Linked DNA regions of Homo sapiens: region 2 is linked to region 1. Evidence: fine-mapped QTL for protein levels in blood plasma. A gene starts in region 1. The other region holds a variant in brackets. All regions are shown on one strand. Distances are between the middles of the regions.

What was found. PIP is the chance, under the fine-mapping model, that this variant and not a neighbour inherited with it causes the effect. Protein levels are from antibody-based Olink assays in UK Biobank. Linkage for the fine-mapping came from a reference panel and not from the study's own genotypes, which makes the PIPs less certain.
Region 2: its variant is fine-mapped to the plasma level of the LAMP1 protein (UK Biobank, PIP above 0.99).

What each region holds. Positions count from the first base shown.
Region 1 is chr13:113,293,729-113,302,022 of GRCh38, reverse strand. It overlaps LAMP1 (lysosomal associated membrane protein 1), which reads right to left and starts at 4,784. Exons shown (of 9, transcript NM_005561.4): 1 at 4,528-4,784. The coding sequence starts at 4,588. RefSeq lists silencers at 1,823-1,902, 1,775-2,069, 4,374-4,653 and an enhancer at 3,964-4,143.
Region 2 is chr13:113,316,060-113,324,353 of GRCh38, reverse strand. LAMP1 (lysosomal associated membrane protein 1) reads right to left here. Exons shown (of 9, transcript NM_005561.4): 5 at 4,698-4,885; 6 at 3,884-4,009; 7 at 2,884-2,950; 8 at 2,627-2,797; 9 at 682-2,072. The coding sequence ends at 1,933. GRTP1 (growth hormone regulated TBC protein 1) reads left to right here. Exons shown (of 8, transcript NM_024719.4): 8 at 1-191. Among named protein-coding and RNA genes, the nearest start is that of LAMP1, 23 kb to the right of the region's middle. The variant C/T (reference allele first, on the strand shown) is at 3,379.

The DNA.
Region 1 (8,294 bases):
GGCATGGTGGCGCATGCCTGTAATCCCTGGTACTCGGGAGGCTGAGGCAGGAGAATGGCGTGAACCTGGGAGGCGGAGCTTGCAGTGAGCCGAGATCGCACCACTGCACTCCAGCCTGGGCGACAGAGCGAGACTCCGTCTCAAAAAAAAAAAAAAAAAAAAAAGAAATCACATCTTAGTTTTTCTTGGCTTGATTCTTTTAAATATGGTATTTTTATTCTACTTAACCAATGATGCACAATCATTTATGAAGAACTAAAGGAAAAAAATACCATCCCAGGCACTGAATCACAACCTCTAGAGGCAAGGTATAAGTGTGTGTGTGTGTAAATATATATATATATATATATATATATATATATATATATATATATATATTTTTTTTTTTTTTTTTTAAATGGAAACAGAGTCTCACTCTGTCACCCAGGCTGGAGTCCAGTAGCATGATCTTCGCTCACTGCAACCTCCGCCTCCCGGGCTCAAGCAATTCTCCTACCTCAGCCTTCCAAGTAGCTATGACTACAGGGGTACGCCACCATGCCCGACTAATTTTTTTTGTATTTTAGTAGAGATGGGATTTCACCATATTGCCCAGGCTGGTCTCGAACTCCTGAGCTCAGGCAATCCACCCACCTCGGCCTCCCAAAGTGTTAGGATTACACGTGACAGCCACCGTGCCCGGCCGTATATTTCTTTTTAATTTTTTTTGTAGAGACACTGGTCTCGCCATGTTGCCCAGGCTGATCTCAAGCAATCCTCCTGCCTTAGCCTCAAAGCACTGAGATGACAGGCATGAGCCACTGTGCCTCGCTGTGGTATGTATATTTCTAAAAAGCTGATCGTGTGGATCCGTGCATATGTTTGGTTGAGAGCCACTGCTATAAAATTGATCCTTTCTTCATATATGTACTCAGCACTTACTACCTGTCAGTTAAGGAAGGGAGATACACAGGCAAAAATAATCCCAGTGCAGCCGAACAGATGTTACCATGTAGAAGCACATGCAATAAAAGTCTTGGGTACAGAGAAGAAAGGGTAACGTTGTCTGGGATGGGGCTAATGCAATACAAATTCAAAATTACAGGGCTACAAAGACATTCTGACCTCAAATCTGCTGACAAATTCATTCTTTCCACCGCATAACTGACAATCTGCACAATCAAAGGTAACATCGGTTAGTAGAAAAAAAATTTTTTTCTTTGTTTTTTTGAGATGGAGTCTCGCTCTGTTGCCCTGAAGAGCAGTGGCACGATCTCGGCTCACTGCAACCTCCACCTTCCGGGTTCAAGCAGTTCTCCTGCCTCAGCCTCCTGAGTAACTGGGACTACAGGCCTGTGCCACTACGCCTGGCTAACTTTTTAAAAATATTTTTAAAAAGAATAGAGATGGAGTTTCACCATGTTGTGGCCAGGATGGTCTCGATCTCTTGACCTAGTGATCGGCCTGCCTCAGCCTCCCAAAGTGCTGGGATTACAGGCATGAGCCACCACACCCAGCTTTTCTTTCTTTTCTTTTTCTTTTTTTTTTTTTTTTTTTGACATTGAGTTTCGATTTTGTTGCCCAGGCTGGAGTGCAATGGCACGATCTCAGCTCCCTGCAACCCCTGCCTCCCAGGTTCAAGCAATTCTCCTGCCTCAGCCTCCCACGTAGCTGGAATTACAGGCGCCTGCCACCACACCACGCCTGGCTAATTTTTGTATTCTTAGTAGAGACGGGGTTTCACCACATTGGCCAGGCTGGTCTCAAACCCCTGACTTCAGCTGATCCGCCCACCTGGGCCTCCCAAAGTGCTGAGATTACAGGCGTGAACCACTGCACCCAGCCGAGTATAAAATTGTTCAAACCTCCTAAGTGACAGTTGTTCAAGTGGAAAGGGTAAGGCGGTCATCCTGCTGACATCAATGGTTTAAAGGGTCACATTACGCAATCACAGCTAATCCTATCTATCAGGACAAGTTTCAGTTCATGTTTGAGCTTTCTAAGTATTCAAACACAGTAGCTTTAAACAATGCCTAATTATTAATATAGTGGAAATTTGTAATTGAGCAGTTTCTTTTTTTAAGAAAAAAGGATTTTTGGTGAAATCGCACATTAAAATAAACATTTTAAATATCTTTAAATGCAAGTTGTTAAAAGGCCTTTTTTAAAAGTTGGATTTTGGCTAGGCACGGTGGCTCATGGCTGTAATCCCAGCACTTTGGGAGTCTGAGGCAGGTGGATCACGAGGTCAGTTCGAGACCAGCCTGGCCAGCATGGTGAAACCCCATCTCTACTAAAACTACAAAAATTAGCCAGGCATGGTGGCGCGCACCTGTAGTCCCAGCTACTAGGGAGGCTGAGGCAGGAGAACTGCTTGAACACAAGAGGCGGAGGCTGCAGTGAACGGAGATCACGCCACTGCACTCCAGCCTGGGTGACAGAGTGAGACTCTGCCTCAAAAAAAAAAAAAAAAAATTCTTGGGCCAAGTACGGTGGCTCAAACCCGTACTCCCAGCACTTTGGGAGGCAGAGGGAGGCGGATCACGAGGTCGGGAGATCGAGACCAGTCTAACCAACATAGTTAAACCTAGTCTCTACCAAAAATACATAAATTAGCCTAGCATAGTGGCGGGTGCCTGTAATCCCAGCTACTCAGGAAGCTGAGGCAGAAGAATTGCTCGAACCCAGGAGGCAGAAGTTGTAGTGAGCCGAGGTTGTGCCACTGCACTCCAGCCTGGGCACAGAGCAACTCCGCCTCAAAAAAAAAAAGTTAAGATTGTAAACATAAAAGATATAATGGAACAGATCTTAGAAGACTGATTACACAAGCAATATTCCAATCACAATATTAGGGAGTTATGGATTTTTTCTCTTCATTTTTAAAGTTAATTTTTTTTTTGTTTTGAGACGGAGTCTCCCTCAGTTGCCCAGGCTGGAGTGCAGTGGCTTGATCTCAGCTCACTGCAACCTCTGCTTCCCGGGTTCAAGCAATTCTTCTGCCTCAGCCTACCAAGTAGCTGGGATTACAGGCGTGCGCCACCATGCCCAGCTAATTTTTGTATTTTTGTAGAGACCGGGTTTCGCCATATTGGCCAGGCTGGTCTCGAACTCCTGACGCCATGATCCATCTGCCTCGGCCACCCAAAGTGTTGGGATTAAAGGCGTGAGCCACTGCTCCCGGCCTGAAGTGAGTTTTTAAAACATGAAACAAAACATCAAAGTTATGAGGCTTGTGAGCATCTGTAACAAAGAACAATGCAGTTGCTGTGACATGACAAAACTTGTTTCTGCAACTCCTTTCATTAACTACACCTGACCCTGTCGCAGGAGCTGAGCAAGGCTTCAGGCTTACTATTGGAATAAGTTCATCTCTGTGGCTATTCAGGCAGTTCAAAGAATTCATTTTACACAACAGGCAAAACAAAAAAGGGAAGCCAAGATCCATTCACTCACAGTAACAGAGTTTTACAGCTGGATGGGACTGAGGGATTTAAAGAAGTCAAGGCAGATGTGTACAGGAGTGTATTTCTATATCTACTTAACTCACACACACTCCCCCAGCTTGATTCTACATCACCTTTCAGATCCTGGCATTTAAGATAATCTTCTCATATTACGGGGGAGGGCGGCGGGGGGAGGAGGTGAAAGAATAGTGTTGGCGGGGGGCAATCCGGACTGTCTTAAAGAGACAGCACACATCCTCTTATTAAGACAATAAATGAGAACGAAATTCACTAGTCAATACAATATTGAGCACCTACTGCCCATCTGAGCTCTATAAACTGACAGAAGAGAAGGGTGCTTCCCCACGTGTTCCCTGGTCCCGCATTTCGGCCTACAGGAACGGCGCTCTTTAAACTACTTACTAGACATGAACATTGCCACCGTGAGTCTGAGGCCAGCTTTCCCTCATCTTGTCTACTACGGAATCTTGTGAAATCCCAAAGATAACTTTAAAAATTATTTTAACATACATGTGAATTCACAATAACATAAATACACTCGCATCTCCTCCACACCGCTGAAAGAGGAGAAAGGTTCAAGTACAAAGGTGGGGAATGCTCGCACCGGCTTCTCCCTGTCCTGGGTGAAATCCATGTTGGGAAGAGCTTGATCTAGGTCACCCACCCGGGAGCTGAGACCACAGACGTCCCTGCCACCTTCGGCGGCGCAGCCTCGTCTAGATCTCACCGCCTCAACTTGCCAGGAAACTTAACGACCTGAAAGCACCAGACCGCCGAGCAAGCCATCGGAAGTTCCCTTTCGCACTCACCACCACAGAAAAACTGAGTTCAGTGAGACAGACCTTAGAGGAGCCAGGTCCTGGGATGAGACCTCCTGGTCCCCCAAGCACCTGCCATTGAGCTCCGCTCCGACCCTACGACCCCGAGAGAAACACCCGCCCGCGGGCAGAGCCGGCCGGGACCAGGAGCAGTGGGTGCGGGGCGACCCGCGGGACAACGACCCGGCAGTCCCCCGCCCTCAAGACCCAGGGACCTCGGCTCCGCCCGGTCCCGCCGCTCCCAGGCCCCGCCTCGACCCCCTCACCGAGCAGCAGCAACAGCAGTAGCAGCAGCAGGGGTCGCCGGGCGCTGCCGGGGGCCGCCATGGCGCGAGGCGGCCGGGTACGGTGCGGGGAGCGGGGGCGCGGGCGGCGGTTGGGCCGCGGACTGCCGGGCGCTGCGGTGGCGGGGCGCGGGCGCCAAGGGCTGGCGTTAGAGACAGCGGCGTTACCAGACGCAAGAGGCCCGGCCACTGCGACGCCGGCACGAAGAAGACACCGCGGCCGGCAGCGCTTGTCACGTGAGCTGCGCCGCGCCCGGGCGTCACGTGATCCCGCGGGTCTCGCGAGAGCGCGCGCGTCGAGCGCCGGCGGCTCGGCTCCCCGCAGGTGCGGCAGCTTCCAGCACCGCGCGCCCCCTCACGCGTGATGCAGGCCGACACGTGACCCGCAGCGGCACGTGACCCGCAGCGGCACGTGACCCTGGACCCACGTGACCCGGCCTGGTCCGGGGGACTGGGGCCGAGCCGAGGTCCTGAAACGGGAAGTGGGCTGGGTTCGCGGAAAAGGAAGAGGAAGAGTAGTGGCGGGAGAAAGTGAGGAAAGAGGAAGCCCGCGAGGGGAGAAAGGGCAGACGGATCGCGGACGCCCAGGCCTCCCTTCAGCCTGCGAGGCGTCCCAAACGCGGGCTCTTTATGGACAGGAGGGTGGTGTGGGTGGCAGCGCGGGTGACCGGCCGGGTGCGCGGCCAGGGATGGGCGAAGGGTTTGTCTTTTGGTGAGTGGGAAGCAAGTTCCTCACACAGGGAGGCCACTGTGCCCAAACTCTTGAGTGGTTTTAGGAAGGAAATAAGGGATCTGAAATGGGTCAGTGCGGCCTTCCGCTCGTTAATCGCGGGCTGAGGGAAGACGGCACCAGGCTGCCCAAGGTGAAGGTGAAGGTGCGATGGCGATACTCTTTGGCTTACAGAAAGTTCCTGTCGAGCACTTTGTTTTTTTTTTTGAGACGGAGTCTCGCTCTGTCGCCCAGGCTGGAGTGCAGTGGCGCGATCTCGGCTCGCTGTAACCTCCGCCTCCCGGGTTCAAGCGATTCTCTTGCCTCAGCCTCCCAAGTAGCTGGGATTACAGGCGTGCGCCACCACGCCCGGCTGATTTTGTATGTTGAGTAGAGACGGGGTTTCACCAGTTGGCCAGGCTGGTCTCGAACTCCTGACCTCAAGCAATCCACCCGCCTCGGCCTCCCAAAGTGCTGAGATTACAGCCCTGAGCCACGGCGCCTGGCTCCTGCATTTTAGAAGTCTGAAGATGCTCTGTTTTTTGGCTTGTCATCATATAGGATTTATGGCCTTTTGTTAAAATACTATTTAATTAAGGCCCCTACGCTACTGCTTTGTATAAAGCACCCGTCGCATAAGTACCTACATCTTAGAAAAAGATTTAATCTTACATTTCAAAAGGCATCATAGCAACGGGGACTGGATGTGCACCTAGTTAATAGAGACAGCACTCAGCCAGATAAAGACAGGACCAGGCACTCACTATCAGTCCTCACCAGAGGACTGTGACCTTAAAAAGGGCGGGATTTGACCAATTCAACACTGGCATTTTGATAGACCCCACCTTGCTGTCACTTGTGCTTAGCACCCTGCATCTGCTGCCTAAGGATCTGCTCACATCAAGGACTTCCTTGGAAGACAATGACTTCTGTCTGGATCAGGCTGGAATACACTCCTTGTTCCCGTCATTGCTTTCCTTGGATTGATCCATTAACCCCTTTTCCTATCCTCTTTCTCTTGATGTCCAATGTTACTTTGTTTGATGGGGAATGTTTAAACCATAGCGTTTGTATTTTAAGTACACTATGATGTATAGTTTGCAGTATTGACTGACACGTGGACTGGCTTGAGCCTTTGCCCATGGCTCTACCAAGTTAACAAGTAGTACTGAAGGGAATTGTCTCGAGGCAACTCCTCGTAGCTCGTGGCTTTTATAATTGAAATAGCATCAATATATTCCCACCCTGTGGAAAGACATAAACGTGTGTGGACCTGGTTATGTCTGACCTTGTGCTGTTCACAACATGCCTTGAGAGAGAAATACTTCTGAACTGAGGCCTCTCACACGATGGGTACAGCAAGTGCTAATAAACTTCTGCTTGTTTCTCCTGTTGCTCTGAATTTTGTTTTCAGGAGAATGTCTCAACTAATAAAGAGAGAAAGAAGAGAAATTATATTTTCTCCCCTGCAGTGGAATGAGACAATTACGCGAAACTCTGGAGGTTTAAATTCGGGGACTCCTCTGATCCACTGCTTCTTAAGGAGGCTAGAAGTAGGGTTTAGAAAGTAGGAGAGGTGTTTGAACAAGCATACTGAATATTACAGTTTTATGGTGCAAAACAAAAACCTGCTTAACAATGCAAAAATAGAATCTAATGCTGGACAAAATCTTGGTTGAAGGAGGTTCAGAGATGACATGATTCCCACACTGTGTCCTAAAGTGTGTATCAGAACGGAGGGAGGGCATTTATCAAAAAAAGGCTCAGAAACACTCATCTAGTCCAAACCATACATATCTGTTCTTTCCTTTCCTGCTGCTGCCCCATGCTCTGGCCATACTCATCTATTTACTTCACCTGTCTCCACTTTTTTGTGGTTACAATTATTTAGACAAAGTGATGCCCTACTCCCTCCCTCCCTTCTTTTCTTTTCTTTTTTTCTTCTTTTTCTGATTCTTTCCTTTTTCTTTTCTTCCCCCTTCTTTCTTTTTTGTTTTGTTTTGTTTTGTGACAGGATTTCTCTCTGTCTCCCAGGCTGGAGTGCAGTGTTGGAATCAAGGCTCACTGCAGCCTCAAGCGGCCTTCCCACCTCAGCGTCCTAAGTAGATGGGACTACCGGTGCACACCATCACACCTGGCCAATTTTTAAAAAATTGGCTGGGATCACAGGCATGCACCACCATGCCAAGCTAATTTTTGTGTTTTTAGTAGAGACAGGGTTTCACTATGTTGTCCAGGCTGTTGAACTCCTGACCTCAAGTGATCCACCCTCCTTGGCTTCCCAAAGTGCTGGGAATACAGGCATGAGCCACCGCGCCTGACCTTTTTTTTTTTTTTTTTCACATTTTATAGCTTTTCTTTGTTTTTTAAGTTAGGAATTCAGTGTGGAATATATTTCCCTGAAGACATTGTTAACCTAAAATAATCAAGAGTCAGAATCTACTTTAAAGAGAGATTATTCAAGTGCAAAGTTTGAGGACAGGCCGCCCAGGAAGCACAGATTCCAAAGAACAGAAGTCGGTGTTCTGAAATGTAGCAGTTTGGGATCATTTCTATAGATGAAGTTTAGGGAAACTTAACACAATTCCAGCATCTTTCTCTCTGAGGGTGAATGCACAGTTACTGTGCTCCGATTAGCCAAGGTGGTCTTTTCCTATTGGGAAAGGTATGTTTGGCGTTCCACACGGACTACGTCACGGGGTCGTCGTGCCATCTAGTCTGAGTTAGGACAGATGCACAGGACAATGAAGGAGGCGGCTGGTCCACAGCAAAGATCAGTAATGGGAAGCGGGGAAGTCTGGTCTCTGGTCTCTCCTAGTCATTTACAAAACAAGAACAAGAGGCTGTGTGGTCACCTGTCAGCCTAACCAGTCCAAGAAGCTGAAGTTGCAAACGTGCTGCATGACTCAGGCCACAGGGCCTAGCTTCCCGCTTGGCACAAGAAACAGGCTCCTGAAATTTTCTTCTGCAGTTTCTGCCACAAGAGTTCAGGTTTGGAAGCTGATACATGGGCTCAGTATTTGAAATAAAGTAGTGGTTG
Region 2 (8,294 bases), 22 kb before region 1:
TTTAAAAGAGCAGTTTAAAATCAGGTCATTCTACCAGCTTTTGATGATTAGCTATGAAGTCATACTTTTTAAAGAAAACTTATTTTTACCTGAGAGATCAATAATATATAAAATGTGAGTGTGGGTTTGTATCTAATAAAGTATGCCAACACCTGTGTTTGTGATCAGTTTCTCAGCTGACTGGAAATTAACATAGTGAGTGGTCACTGAGGTCTTACAGCGGCAGTGTCAATATTCCATTCCTTTCTGTGACAGAGCGTGCAGTTTATGTGAGGCTTCTGCACGTAGTAGGTGATTTCTCTTTAGAAAGATCATTTTCTCCCTTCAACTTTTAACTTCTGGGTACAGGTGGAGGGTGTACAGGTCTGTTGCACAGGTAAACGTGTGCCGTGGTGATGTGCTGCACAGACCATCCTGTCACCTAGGTATGAAGCCAGCATCCCTTAGCTATTCTTCCTGATGCTCTCCCTGCCCCCGACCCAACGGGCCCCAGTGTGTGATGTTCCCCTCCTTGTGTCCATGTGTTCTCATCAGAAGCTCCCACTTACAAGTGAGAACAAGTGGTGTCTGGTTTTCTGCTCCTGTGTTAGTTTGCTGAGAATAATGGCTTCCAGCTCTATCCGTGTCCCTGCAGGGGACAAGATCTCATACCTCTTTATGGCTGCATAGTATTCCATGGTATCTGTATGAAAGGTAATTTTTTTAATGATTTAAAAATTATCATGTTACATGAATGAACCAGACAACTGTGCCAGGCACTCGGGCCACTCCCAACACCATTCCCTACGTCTGGCACCAAGACCACCCTCACCCCCCGTTTCCCTGACACCCTTCTCTCTGCACCGAGACCACCCTCAACCCCGTTTCCCTGACGTCCTTCTCTCATGAGCTCCCATTTTAGCTGACAGAAGGACAAGGCCCACCCCAAAAAGAAAGAGGCTTTTTATTACATTGTTACAGGCAATGCATTACGTGAGCTGGTCCCGTGTACAATCCCCAAGCCACGGCAAAACATCAGGAGAACGCACCGATCTCACATTGTACACAGCGCAGAACAGGATCACCCCGAATGTCAACAGAAGACCAAAAATCACTTTACAAATAAAAATAAAAATAACACCCATTTTTATATTTAAAAAAGTGCCAGCCCTTGAGCTGCAGACATTAGAGACGCCCAAGGACGTGCCGCCACTGGAACGAGGCCGCCAGCCACGTGTGGCCCGTCCTGGCCTTTAAAGCTGAACTGAAGCGCTCCAGACACTCATCTCTGGAGTTCCTCTGTCTTAGGATGTTCCCTCTCTACTGTTGTAATGTGTGAGCATGTCAGCCTCACCACGAGTGACCTTCATGCGTCCTACGTGTGACGGCCAGAGGCTTTCCCTTTGTAAGGCTTAAATCTGAGTGCAGTAAAGAATGAAGAAACCAAACACCAGAACCCTAAACTCAAATGATATGGAGCCAATTTAGAGCGGCACCCCCACCCCTCAGAGACAGCGGCATTCCACCCCTCGGAGAGAGCAGCACCCCCACCCCCTCAGAGAGAGCGGCACCCCCACCCCCTCAGAGAAAGCGGCACCCCCACCCCCTCAGAGAGAGCGGCACCCCCACCCCTCAGAGACAGCGGCACCCCCACCCCTCAGAGACAGCGGCACCCCCACCCCCTCAGAGAGAGCACCCCCACCCTCAAAATCCTACTTTGGTAAATATTAATGTTTAACCAGTTAGCAAAATATTTAACCCAGTTAGCAAAATTAACACCGTCATTTCGATAGTTACTCTGTTGTGCATAGTAAATGCTGCAAGATGAACTTCACATTGGATGAAGCAGATTTGAGAAACGTTTGCCAGAAAGTGTGCCTCCCCTTCGACAGGACCCTAAGCCCAGAGAAAGGAACAGAGGCCCCTGCAGCTGCTGTGCCTGCGTGCACCAGGCTAGATAGTCTGGTAGCCTGCGTGACTCCTCTTCCTGCCGACGAGGTAGGCGATGAGGACGATGAGGACCAGCCCCGCCAGGGCACCACCCACAGCGATGGGGATCAGCATGCTGTTCTCGTCCAGCAGACACTCCTCCACTGCCAAGACAGACGGATGGTGTCAGGGCTCTGCTCACACAGGGGCCTGCAAACAGGCCTCTCTCCCCACCACTCCCCCACATCAGCCAAAAGGCAAAGAGGAACCCTGGCGGAAGGTTCCAGCTCTAGCTGGAATTGTCACTTGGGGAAGCCGCTGCAGAGACTGGTGCTCTCTGCACGGCGAGGAAACCACACACGTCTCTCCCCCGTCTGGAATCAGGGGCTGTGGCCGGACAGCTGTGCTGCGTCCAGGGCCTCTGTGCACATCAGATGACAGTGTTGTATTCAACGTTCATGGGAGAAGCGCCACCACTGTTTCTTAAAATGATTCCCTTACTCTCAAATGGTACCAGGGGCTCCCAGCTGAGAGACACGCTGGGCCTCTCTAAAGCAGGGGGAGTTACCTCTAGAATCTCAGACCGGCAAGAAGAAACAGCTCCTTGCAGAGGAACAGGGGCGTCGCCCCAGCCCACACGGAAGCGACTAAACGTCCACAGGCGGAGTCTGAAGCACGTCCTCCACACCCCGCGACAGCTGCCCTCGGTGACACTCACCAGAGCCAAACTGGCCACCTTCCACCTTGAAAGCCTGGACCCACACTTTGAATATATTGACTGAAAACGCCTTCGTGACACGGACGTGCTCCTCCGCGTTGCACTTGTAGGAATTGCCGACTGTGGCCTGCAGCGCTCGCAGGGAGCCGTTGGCAGCTTTAAAGGCAGGGTCTGCAACACACACAGAGGTCTAGTGGCTCCAGAATACCCTGGGCGCGCGGGCGGGGGCGGGGCTCGCAGAGATTGTGGGTTCTCACCTCTGGCGTCAGGAAGAATTGTATTCAACTGGATTCCTTGTAGGAAAAACCGGCTAGAACTTGCATTCTTAAAAAGAAAAATGATCTTTAATCACGGAGCAGATTCATAGAAAGATGATCTTTAACCCCAGTAGATTCACACATTTATCATCAAACGTGAATGGTCATTGGGTAATAAACCTGACTTCCTACATTTCTAGTATTAGAACAAAACTGCAAAAGATCTTGTCTATAAAAGGCGTTGTGTATCTCTGGGGAATGAAAATTTTGGTTAGTTCCTTCCAGACCCTTCTCTGAGAGTCTTGCTCTGTCACCCAGGCTGGAGTGCAGTGGAGTGATCACGGCTCATCGCAACCTTAACTCCTGGGCTCAAGTGATCCTCCCACCTCAGCCTCCCAAGTAGCTGGGACCACAGGTGTGCGCCACTACGCCCAGCTAACTCGTTTTATTATTTGCAGAAATGGAGCCTCCCTGTGCTGCCCAGGCTGGTCCTTC[C/T]AGACCTCTTGAGAGTCAGTCTCTGGAAAACGGGGACTGCAGGAGCTATCACAGCACAGGAAAGCATGATTTGGAAAGCTAAAATTATAAGAAACTGAACTGTTAATTCATTTGCACAGCGATTTAAAAAGACTGACAAGTGACAATTATATGCTTCATGTCTTATGTTGCTAACTGCACAGGAGTCCTCCCAGGCAGAAATGCCACCACGGAACCACAGGGCAGCAGCATCTGAAGCCAGAAGGCCGCACGGCCTGCATGCCCTCCCCTGCAGCCACTCCAACTGTGGGCACAGCAGCCCCGCCCACATCATCTGCTGCATCTATGAATGGAATGGAAAGGGGGGAGGGGAACCAAGGAACTAAAAAGCCCAGGATAAAGGGAAGGCAGAAAAAAGTGAGGCCGCCTCCTTCCTAACGCTGCCTCCCATGAGCAGACCCAGGGCACAAAAAGATGTGGTGGAGACACAGTGGGCGCCCCCAGAGAGGTGCCGCCCCAGCCTCACCATCCCGAACTGGAAGAGCAGGACGGTGGTGCCCTCGCTGTGCAGCTCCAGAGTCACCAGGTGGGCGCCGCAGCTCCCGCTGGCCGAGGTCTTGTTGGGGTTGATGTTGAGAAGCCTTGTCACCGTCTGCATAAGACAAGCAAGCAAGTCACCACCCTAGCTCAGGTCCTCCACACTCTCGAAAAGACAAACAGTCCTGAAACCGTGAATTCAAGGCCACATTTGTTTTAACCAAAACCAGAAGGAAAACACTGAAAGACCACACTAGTACAGATTTCGGGATCCCAAGATGACTCTCCCTGACCCCGTGACAGCTGCTCTTGGAGTGCAGCGTCCCCGCGTGGAGGGCAACCAGCAGCACCACCTCCCCCTGCAGCAGTCAGCCCTGCAAACTCACCCCACGGCACGCAAGTCGACCCCCACAACCCCACAGCCTGTCACTACTAGGGGAGAAAAACTATTTCAAAAGAAAACTATAAAAATGTAACACTTAAATGTTTCCATGATAAATATGTAAAGAAAACTTAGGTTCTATCAGGGGCCAAGTTGTAGGCTCTGTGGGCCACACTGCCCAATAGGCCATGCTGGGACACCAGCCTTGGATGATGGAACCAGCAGGACGGCTGTGATCCTACAAAATGGACTCACTGACACAGACGCCAGCTCTTGTCCTCTAGGGTCACGTCCTGCAAGCTAAGCTCCCATCCTGACTTAACAGCATGACGTGCAGAGACGCGTGTTCTCAGTGCACAGGGAGCAGAGGCTCCAGCCCTACCGTGCCGTCCCCCTCTCCCAGGTGAGGCCCCAGCCCTACCGTGTTGTCCTTCCTCTCATAGGTGAGGTTCAGCTGCAGCCCCATGCTGGCCAGCAGGCAGGTCCCGTTGGTGCCGCTCACGTTGTACTTGTCCACAGAGGGGCTCTTGGGCACGGGTGAGGGCGAGGGGCTGGGTGGCGCAGGGGGCGCTGTGGTTGGGGAAGGCCTGTCTTGTTCACAGCGTGTCTCTGCAGGTGCAGTGGAGGGAGATTCAGGTCTGGGTTTCTCATAACCATCAGCAGTTACAGTAAGATCCAAACTCAGAAACAAAACTACATCTGTGGACTCTGGCGTCCTTGGTGACTATTTTCTCAGTCTCCCAAGGTGGCTCTCGCTAATGCCTTTCTAGACGCGCAGGAAAGAGCTGGGTCCTGCAGACGGCTCAGGGCGGTAGGCACAGGCCCGTGGGGCACCCTCAGCCTCCACCTCCCACTACCCAGGACGGTTCTGCCTGGGCAGCAGGCACCGCCCACCACACCCCAAGCCCCGTGGCTGGACAGGGGCCACTGTGCCACCCTCTTCCTAAAGTGAGGGTGAGAAAGCCTTGAACGCTGTCACGAAGGAGTGGACGCAGGAAGCTGTGCTGCGTGGCCGGCCACCTCACCCCATGGGAAATGGTGACGACTCAGACACTGCTCCCTGAGCTGTCGGGTGAGCGCCAGGATCGTGCTGGAAACACTACCCAGAGGGAAACAGAGGGTCTGCAGCACACACAGACCGGCCAGGTGGGACGCAGAGCAGCCAAGGAGGCCCTCTGGCAGGACAGGGGTCAGGCAGTCTCCATGAGGACCCCACGTGTGAGCAGAGACTCAAAGGCGGGCAAGGCTAGCCAGCTGTGTTGGGTCTTCATTTGGGGAGGGGGCTGTGGGGGATGGGCAAGCATCCTCACGAGGGAGAAGGCAGTGAGTGTGGGTGCGTCTGAAATCCCCAGACAAGAGGGCACAGTTCAGGGAATCCGTGGGGGTGGGGGGGCACATGGCACCCCTGGGGAATGCCCAGCAGTCTGAATGTGACTCTGTCCTTCAGCAATTCACCCACCAAGATGTTCACAACACAAATTTATATTCAAAGTCAAGACAGACTGAACCCTAGGTAGAGCTCTACCGAGTCTTCTGTGGCCAACACTCTCACTAACACACCATCAACCTTGAAATCAGGTTCTTTCTTTTACCACCTTGTTTCTGTGGATACTCAAGAATAATATTTATATAATTTCCACCCAATTCGATCCTTTCCACATCTCTGCTAGGCTGAGTCACCACGCGTGAGCCCCACATATCCAGGGTGGGCAACCCTGCAGGGAATCTGCCACTCATAACTCCATCAGTCACCTGCTGCTTCCGCTTCCATCTCAACATTCAGTGGCCAATTCCCACCTTCATATCCCATCTACTCAGGGCAGGAAAGAGACAGGCAACGTCGCCTATGACTGCACCCCAACGGGTTCTGAGACACACACAGGAGTGCCCCCGCACCCCGGTGTAAAAGCCCCTTCTGGACAGAGCACAAGATGGCAGAGAGGAGCTGCAGTAACCACACCAAACTCTGAAGTGAGAGGCACTGACGGCCACTGGGAGCCGTCCCAACCTGGGATGTGCTCAGGGACCCTTGCTCACTGCCCTTGGCGAAGCTGCAGGTTGACCAGTCCTTTCCAAAACAGCTTCACTTGCTGGGCGCAGTGGCTCATGCCTGTAATTCCAGGGCTTTGAGAGGCCAAGGAAGGAGGACTGCTTGAGCCCAGGAGTTCAAGGCCAGCCTGGGCAACATAGGGAGACCCCCATCTCCACAAAGTTTTTTTAAAAAATGAGCCAGGCATGGTGGCATGCGCCTTAGTCCTAGCTACTCAGAAGGCTGACTAGGGAGGGTCACTGGAGCCTGGGAGGCTGAGGCTGCAGTGAGCAGTTATTGTGCCACTGCACTCCAGCCTGGGAGACCCTGTCTCAAAAAAAAAAAAAAAAAAGCAGCTTCACGGTTCCTTTATAAAATGTTACAGACCAGGGTTAAACAGGCAAAAGTTAAATGTGCAAAACCGGCCAGTCTTGTCCAAATTCTAGTCTAGATGGCCACACGACGCACAGAAAAAGTGTAACCTACGCTGCTTTGACAATTGTTTTTCACCTGTGATCCATGTGGCACATTCATTTCCCACCCTGTTTCTGTAGAGTGGTCACAAGAAGCTGGAAACACAAATAAAACATCATCAGGTCTAACCACCAGTTTAAAAAACTGGAACTTGAGAAATAAGTGTGGATAAAATGCCCTCGTCCTTCTACCTGAATTACAAACGCAAACCCACACTCTCCTTCCCTGAATGCGTACTAAATACCAAAGTCTTTCCTGCTGAGGGCGGAGGACAGTGACGGAGAGCTCATCACGGAACGCACTGGAGAGTGCCCTGCGCTGCCCGGGGGGAGATGGTGGCACAGGAGCCTCTGGGGAGACCTGAGGGTCCACTGTCACACCTCCTCCAGCACCCTCCGGAGAGCAGCACACAGCCGGGCCTTTCCAAAGCTCATGTGCTCTGAAGGCCCCTCCTCCTCTCCCGGCAACAGCAGATACTCACATCAACCTGCAAGCTGCAATTCAGACCCTCAAGGGTGTCTGTGAGGATGAGATTGGTTTGCACCCAGGTTCCCGACTCATAGCTCCCACAGCCTCTCTTACAGTTTTTTGTGACAATGTTGGGTGTGTCAGGCCTCTGACCTTCTCCTGCCCCTTTCACCTGTCCTGAGGGACTCTCATCCTCTCCGCCTTTCTGATGGTAGTTCTTTTTTTTTTTTTTTGAGACAGAGTCTCAGTTGCTCTGCCACCCAGGCTAGAGTGCAGCGGCGCCATCTCAGCTCACTGCAACCTCCACCTCCAATGTTTTACCATCGATTCCTTCCATTTAAGCTAGGAGTCAGACTCTGTTCCTAGGAATGAAAAAAAAATGCTGCAGCTGGGCACGGTGGCTCACGCCTGTAATCCCAGCACTTTGGGAGGCCGAGGCGGGCGGATCACGAGGTCAGGAGATCAAGACCATCCTGGTTAACACGGTGAAACCCCGTCTCTACTAAAAATACAAAAATTAGCCAGGCGTGGTGGCGGGCGCCTACAGTCCCACCTACTTGGGAGGCTGAGGCAGAAGAATGGCGTGAACCCAGGAGGCGGAGCTTGCAGTGAGCAGAGATCACGCCACTGCACTCCAGCCTGGGGTGACAGAGCGGGACTCTGCCTCAAAAAAAAAAAAAAAAAATCATGCCAAATTGGGTGGGAGATGAGACACGGTGACCTTCATTTTCAACTCCTAACAGGAGTCAGGCAGTCCTCTGATTCATTCAACAAGCGTGCACCTATCAGACCCTGAGGATAAAAGACGAAGACACCCCACTCCTCCCGGTGAACTCATAAACCCAAAAGCCTGGCTGAGCCTCACTGTAGATCTGCTAACCCCATATGGGCCTGGGCTGGAAATCCGGTTTGGATGGATATCTGGCTGACTCCAGCCTCAGGCAGAGCTGCACTCAGACCCTCTGGAGTGACAGTCATCTGCCCTACTTTGTTTTTTTGTTTTTGAGATGGAATCTCACTCTGTCAGCTGGGCTGGAGTGCAGTAGC